2 linked regions of the Homo sapiens genome follow. The protein of the gene in region 1 purifies or fractionates together with the protein of each later gene. This does not show direct contact. Each region holds a gene or a part of one and is shown on either strand. Other genes may lie near its edges.

What was found.
Region 2: the proteins of ASB4 (region 1) and DNAJB5 purify together in Homo sapiens (affinity purification with mass spectrometry; 4 studies listed by BioGRID and IntAct, with this or other methods). This does not show direct contact.

Annotation. Positions count from the first base shown.
Region 1 is NC_000007.14:95,530,902-95,534,816, forward strand, and holds part of ASB4 (ankyrin repeat and SOCS box protein 4), read left to right. Parts: intron 1-3,915.
Region 2 is NC_000009.12:34,992,537-34,996,451, reverse strand, and holds part of DNAJB5 (dnaJ homolog subfamily B member 5), read right to left. Parts: intron 3,253-3,915; coding exon 3,008-3,252; intron 188-3,007; coding exon 1-187.

The sequences.
Region 1 (3,915 bases):
AGTGAAGGTGGTGAGAATCATGGACTTTGGGGTCAAACTTGGATTCTGTCACTTACTTAAGAGTGTGATTAAATAAACTGCTGAAAGTTTCTGGGCCTCAGTTTCTTCCCCTGTTGAATGAGTATACCCTGAATTTATGCCTTGGCAATGCGATGCAGACTCAGTCCTTCCCCAGAAGGAAGTTATTCCTACTCATAGCACATCACAAATATGCTCAAAGCTCAGAGGATGGTGCCAAACATTTCTTTCCTCTTTCTCTTGGACTTCTTTCAGTCACAGCAGAGTCTCTTTCCCAGTTCCTCCCTTCAGTCCTATCCTACATCTATACACATCTCTCTCTTTGTTTACTTCCATCTTTTTTTCTTACCTACATCTTGCTAAGGGCTGGTCATTCTTCATGACGTTAGCTCTAGAAGACAAAAACATCTACCTCTGTAATACAGCTCACTTCACAAAGCATAATTTTCTGCATATTGTCGTTCAAAGACTACTTTCCCTCCAGCGAAAAGGATGGACAGGGACACAGGGCATGAAGGTGCCAGAGAAACATACTCTATCACTTTATCCATGAATAGTAATAGCCTTCTTGTAAGGCTGTTTTGATAATTAAATGAGATAGCATTTGAGAAGTGGTTAGCACGGTGCCATGGGCATGGTAACCATTAAACAAATGATGGCTATGACTATTACTATTCTTAAACATGTGTTGAGCAGGAGAATTGGTGCTCCTGGGCCTGCTTTACTATAGCAGTCTTCCCATCCAGGAGAGACAGTATGTGTGTGAGTCCCTGCCCAGAGACTAAATGTTGACTTGTATTCTGAAACTTGCTGTGGAATCTAGTAGTGGCATTCAACCCTAGTGTTCACTTTTCTCCTCCTCTCAACATGTGCTCTTGGTCCAGCATAAGCATCTCCCCTGCTGGCTTTTCTTGGTAGCTCCACCAGCCTGTAAAGTAGGCATACAATTTTGTGTTCCAACCAACTTTGTCCATGGTTAGCATTTTCTTATTCAGTTGTTTTGCTCCTTTGAGTTCCTTTAGTTTGGCTGTATGCTAAAGACATTTAGGATAGAGTTGGCTACTGGTAGATGGCTGGTATTACAAACATTTTTGTTGCTACTCAACAGACTGTGTAGGAGAGCTGGCCCCCCTCCAAAGGAAAAGTAAAGAAAAACTATTCAATTTACTATGCAGATGCTTCAAAGTGATTTAGAACAACTACTCCACAGCCCGACTTTCCAAAGAGAAAGTCATCTTTACGACAAGTAAGTGACTGACTCATTTATCCAGAAGATAAAGTGATTCGTTCTTGTGTGGATGGGGAATTCAGTTTCCTTATTTACAAGGAACAAGGTCAGAGCTGAAGATGTTTTCTTCCAAATACAAAGCCAATTTGTAGAGGGTGTATTTCACTGAAAGCCAATGTGTAAATTACATAAGCGGGGGAAAAAAGAATTATAGGGTCTGCAATTGCTTTCCAGGGTACAAAAGGACATTTGATTTTTTTTTCTCCCAGCGTAATTCAGAAGAAAGTGACACCCCAGGGAGCCAAGATTGGGTTTTCTTGTAGGGCAAGAAAGACATTTTTCTAGAGGAGGAAAAGGTAACACGAGGGTCTGGGAGAGGTAAGGATGATTTCTGCCATTGAACAATGCTGTATATGAAGGTAGGCAGTTCTCTTTGATCATTAAGTACCTTTCTGAACACATATATATCAATATAAAAGAGTGGAAGTAGCTTGAGAATGTTTCTGCTGAAGTGGCTTACAGATGATGTTTGGATGAGAAGAGAGGCAGGAAGACTTACCTTGAATCTCTTTTTTAAGAGATTGTGTATTAATCCATGCTTTTGGGGGTTGGATGGTGAGATGAGGTGTCTAAATCTCTCTTCAGTAGTCACCACAGTAGAAATAACTTTTTTGTCTAATTGTTCCTCCATGAAGGGAGAATAAGAGATGCCAGAGACTCATCAAGGTGAGCTTACTGAACATCTTCTGTTTTCTGGGCTGGCAAGGTCAAAAGGAGGCTGTGGTTTCTCCCTTTGGGGTCCACATCAGTCTGCTGTCTCATGTTTCCTTTGTCTTATGTTTTCATGAGGAAAATGCTGCTAAAATAAAACTCCCACTAATCTCTGTCCCTAACCTTCTCACTTCACTTAACAGATTGATGAGTTGGGAGGAGGAATTGACTTAGCTTGCTCAACCTTGGGTCTAGAGGATCCTTGAATTCTTTGTTCATTTATGTGGCAGGCTTCCAGTAATAAACTCTGTCTGCCAGGGAGAGGCCTGCAATTTTAGGGTATAAATTCAGTTTGGGGGTAGAATGTTAGAAGCTGTGTATGGCCCCCTAACTAAACATATGTAATCTATTTTATCAGTAGTAAAGATGATATTCTGATCTCTGATTGTCATCTTCATTTCATTTTTTAATAGGTCCTACACTAAAAAGGGAAAATTACTTATTGGGCTTCTAACACTCTTCGTGCTGTGACACCAAGGGTCTTAAAGATGAGGACAGGGCAGCCCTAGCTACAACTTTTCGTTTATCCTTTATTTATCCCCCACAATCTGTTCCTTACCTGTTTCAGTCCACCCAACTCCCAGTGACTTGACCTTCTAATTCAATCTGCTGGTATTTAATCTGTCTTCATCTCTTGATCTTCATGACCCCCTTGATAATCTCACTTTGAATGCTTTCTTCATTTGGTATCTTTCACTCTGACATGTCTGGTGTTTTTTTGACTTTGGAGTCATGCAGACTTGAGTTTAAATCCTGACTCTACCATTTCCTAGCTAAAAGACCCAGAGGTTAAATTTTCTCAGCCTTTGGTCTTAAATCTCTGAAATGGGGATGAATATAGGACCAACCTCATAGGATTGTTCAACGGCTGAGCAAGTTAAAGTATATGAAGATTTAACACAGTCCCTTGCACATAGTAAGTCCTCGAAAAATGGTAGCTATTATTTTCCCTTCTTCCTCTCTCGTGCCTATTAGGATTTCTGAAGCTGTAGGTAATGATCCTCTATCTTTTCCATTTATACCCATTTAGACTGTCACTGAACTTCATGGCTTCTGCCAGCACATACTTTGATGACACATAATAACTCCATCTTAGCTTTCTAATGGGGAGCATCTATTGTGTACATTTTTTGCTGACATGAATGGCTGGGCGCGGTGGCTTACACCTGTAATCCCAGCACTTTCAGATGCCTAGGCGGGCGGATTACTGGAGGTCATAAATTCAACACCAGCCTTACCAACATGGTGAAACCTCGTCTCTGCTAAAAATGCAAAAATTAGTCAGGAGTTGTGGCATGATTTGTAATCCCAGCTACTTGGGAGGTGAGGCAGGAGAATCGCTTGAACCCAGGAGGTGGAGGTTGCAGTGAGCTGAGATTGCACCATTGCACTCCAGCCTGGGCTAAAAACGTAAAACTCCATTAAAAAAAAAAAAGATGAACTATCCTCCTCCTCATTATCTGTCCATCCCAGATTAGTATGTTCCTTATTTCTGTCAATCAGTGGCAACTCTTGTTTGTCCTCTATCTCTGGCTTCCAAGTTGTATTCTTTCTTCCTCCTATCTGATTAGTATTAAGCCCTATACTTGTTTCTTCTCCCAGCTTCAGCCACCCCTCCTTCCCAGCACTAGCCCTGACACCAGCCTGGGAGCCGGTTGGTGCACTTCCCATTAGCCTCCCCTCCACTCTCTGCCCTCGATGCACTTGTCTTCTCCTCTGTGGGTTGCTGATGGTGCTCAAGGATCACCTGATGATCTTTATGTTAGTCTTTTATTATTTACTGACTTATATTGCTCTCTAACTCTTTGAAATTATTTGTGTCTTTTCTCTTCAACTAGGTTGTAAACTGCTTAAAGACAAAAAACAGGTCATAAATCTCCCAGAATTACTGTCATAGT
Region 2 (3,915 bases), on another chromosome or scaffold:
TCATCCACATCCATGTCATCTGGGTCAAAGCCACTGAAGGGCCGAGTGGAGCGGCTGCTGGCAAAGAAGATATCGAAGGGGTTGGAGCCACCAAAGAAGGAGGCAAAGGTGGCATGGGGGTCCCCATGAAAGGTGTAGTGAAAGGAGCCACTGGAGCCACCTGATGTGCCACCGCCGGTCTTCAGGCCTAGAGGGGAGGAGAAGTTAGGGGCAGTGTGGCTTATTCTGGCCCCAATCCCAGTGTCTTCCCCCTGCCCTCTAGCTCCCAGTTCACAGGCTTAAAGAAAGAAGCAACCTTTAAATCCCACAGAGAGGGCCAGGCTAATAGAGTAAGAAAGGCTTCTGGCAAGATTATCTTCCATTCCTAATTATATATTTAATAACGATGCACAACTTGAGATTCAAAGAGGCTTGCTTACCCAATAGGTGGAAAAGCCAGGACTAGAGGACTTAGAGGATGTGACTTCCAGTCCTGTAATCTTTTCCACATACTCATGGTCCAAAGATGTCTCAAAAAGCCTTGAATGACTAGCCTGGTGTCACATTACAAGTGATACTTGGTTCCCAAATCTTTGCTTATCTCCAAAGACATATAGGACAAGGGGCCATCAGACAGGATGTGACCACAGAGGGGGCTGGTAAGTGAACAGTCGCAAATAGGCTAGGGATCCAACCCGGGAGGAAGACCACTTTCACTCTGCTTCTAGCAGTGTTTCCTCTTTCCCTGGCCCCTGCTCAAACGGGAAATCAGGAAGCCTTAAAAAGTGGGAAAGCTCATTAGCTTGGAGATGAAGAGCTATTTTTCTAGAAAAAGTTTTTAAATGCTTTGTTCCCACACTCTGCTCGGTGTTACACAACTTTAGGGAGTGTCATTCACACATTGTACAGACATAGACTACAATGGGAATGGAGCTCCCTGGAGTTATACAACAGCAAACGCCATACCCCACACCTAATGTTGAGCAACCAAAATGCATGAATGGGCTGGCACATGGCAGTGGTGACCTTAGCTGCTCTCTCTGTCAGGTCCTGTCTAAGGGGCTCAGATTCCTGGAGGCAGCCTTCATGCACAGGAGGGGGTGCTGGCAGTAGTGGGGGATGTGGGGAGACGGTTCACACTGAGAACTGCTCCGGAATACAGAGACTATGGGTGGGGTCCAGGCTAGGAAAGAGACCCTTCTCTTTGAGGCCATTTATCTAGAATTTCAACTGATCATGGAGATCTGAGCCTAAATTAGCCTCTTATTTCCTGGGACCACAAGGGCAGATTTGAGTTTCACTAGAGAGGCCAAGTGGCAGACGGTTCAGGGACTTGTGGCAGCTGCCTCTTCACCCCTCCCCCAAGACCTAGGATCTCTCCTTTCCTTCTATCGAGGGGCTGATTATCAAGCGAGTTCAAGCAGCCTGGCAGAGCTCAGTGAGAGAGGGAGGGAGGCTGGACTGATGATGATGGGAAGGGGTAATTCTCTCTATAGGGATTTCTATTCTTCCACTACCACCCCCTTTTCAAGCTGGGAGCAACTTGTCCCTAGCTGGAGCTGCACACAGAGTCTGTGTGTATAACTGCTCTATAATAAATGGCTGCTGGGGATTGGGCAGGGTGGACAGAAATATAACCAACATTTCTAAGCTGCTTCTCCCTCCCCAGGCCATGGAGGTCCCCTTAAGGCCATGCCGCATCCTCAGGGGCCTTCCTGGGATGGGGTTCTGCATCAGAACCTGGTGTCTGGACCCCTTCACTTAGGCAGAAGGGGTGAAGTATCTCAAGGGAGCTCTCCCAGCTCCTGCCTTCTTTCTAAACAAAGGTGAGGCTGAATGGAGGAATGGGTGCAATTCCAAGACAGGTCACATGGTGGCATGGTGTCTGCACTGCTTCCCTCTTTTCCACTCCTATCCCTCCCATCCCTCCATGCCAGAGAGAAAAATGTCTTAGCTGAAAGAATACTGGGGGTTCCAGCCGGTATCTGGTGAATCTGGGAGTTGGCACGTCTAGGAGGTAGGCAGGAAGAATGGAAGGAACCGGCAGCATGGAGAATAGGAAAAGGGAGTTGGGAGGATGAGGGTTCACAGAGGGGCATGGAACACAAGGCCAGGAGGAGGGGAAGAAAATAACCTTCTTATCTACATATGATTAGCCCATTTAGTTTTGAGGATAGAAAGGGGAGGGTGAAGAGGAGGAGAATGTGAAAGAAAGGTGGATTCTGTTGGGGAGGAAGGACAGTTCTTCCCAGGAAGGAGAGTCCTCAGCGTGACAATGTCTCTTAATATAGCCTGACAGGTGCCTGTGGCTGGCGGGTGGCAGGCAGCCCTGAGGGGCAGGCCCAGAATTAGCAGCTACATCATGGCCGTGGGATGTGCTGGGAGGGGCCTCCCTCTCAGAGGCTTTATTTGGGCCTTTCCTGCCTCCCACCCCATGGCCACCAGCTACCCCAGGGAAGGGGGAAGATGCCAGCAGCAGTTCCCCGTCCACCCTTGGATCCCTGCCACTTCCTCTGGGAGGCAAAGCTCCACCTCTGTTCTGCTGGCCAGAAGCAGGCAGGGCCGGGGGAGAGAAGGGGAAAACCATTTCTGCTCAGAGCTCTGGTAGTTAATTCCCAGGCTGCTTAAGGGCCAGACTTTTATGCTGATGAATGTAAATGCTCTGTCCTCAGAGAGCCACACACTCCCTCTCCCCAACCTTCCTCATCAGCCAATGAAGCAGCGGAGACTTCAGGCAGGACTAATAAGGCTGGGAAGGAAAGAAGGGCGGGGAAGGCCTCTGGCTCTTGCTTCAGACCTCTCTAAGGCCTGAACCCGAGGAGGGAGGGGGCAGAGAGAGGCGGGGAGAACTAGGGTGAGCTGAGCTGGGTAGTGGGTGGGCTTCTCTCTTCTCTGGGTGACAGTGCTGGAAACCCTTGCTGCCCTCACCCCCTCCACAGCCTCCAGTTCCCCGCTACACAAACTGGTGCACCTGGGACCCCTACCAAGCGGAGGGGTCCGGGATTGGGCTGGAGTGCTGCCCTCTTACCTTCCTCCCCATACTGGTCATACAGGCCCCGTTTCTTGGGGTCACTTAGCACATCATAGGCCTCTGCAATCTCCTTAAACTTCTCCTCAGCGTTGGGTTCTTTATTCTTGTCTGGGTGGTACTTCAAGGCCATCTTCCGGTAGGCTTTCTTGATCTCATCCTCGTTGGCCCCCGATGGGATCCCAAGAATCTTGTAATAATCTTTTCCCATCACAGCCACTGGACCAGCACTGGTCTCCTTGTTTCTGAAAGAAACCCAGGGCCAAGACTTGATGCCTTCTCTTCTGCCCCAGCCCTGTTCCTGATGATCTTGCAATCCCTAAATGACTCCCTGGGTAACCTTCAGCAGGTCATGCCTGTTCTGTGGGCCTGCGTCCCCCCATCTGTAAAATGAAAGGTTTGGACTAGATGATCTCTTCTGGCTCTGACATTCTAGAATTCTGTGATTCCGTCCTCACCTCCTGGGTTTTCCCAGCAGGAAGCTGAAGGTTGTGGCCCACTCTTGGGGCTAGGCTGAGGCCCTGGTCCTTGGGCCAGACTGAGGACCCCTGAGAGGCCCTGCTGAGCGAGGTGGCACCATGGACTGAGCGACCCACACACAGGAGCTGGCGAAGGTCAGTGTAACGGGTGAGGTCACCTGAGCATCGTGGTCTCCTACGCCACGCCTCAGGCATGGTGCCCAGGCTGAGGGCAGCTGGGGCAGTGGCCCAGGACCGGGAACAGGCCTGGGTCTTCCGCCAGCTGTCCTGGCCAGCCAGACTGAGTCAGGGAATGGGTGTCTGGAGTCCTGTCTGCCATCGGAGACCCCAGGCCTCCCCGCCCCCACCCCTCTGACGATGCTAAGCCTCACGTGTGACTCAGATCACAGGGTGACTCACAGCCTTTGGAAACTGCTGTTTCCAACTCCC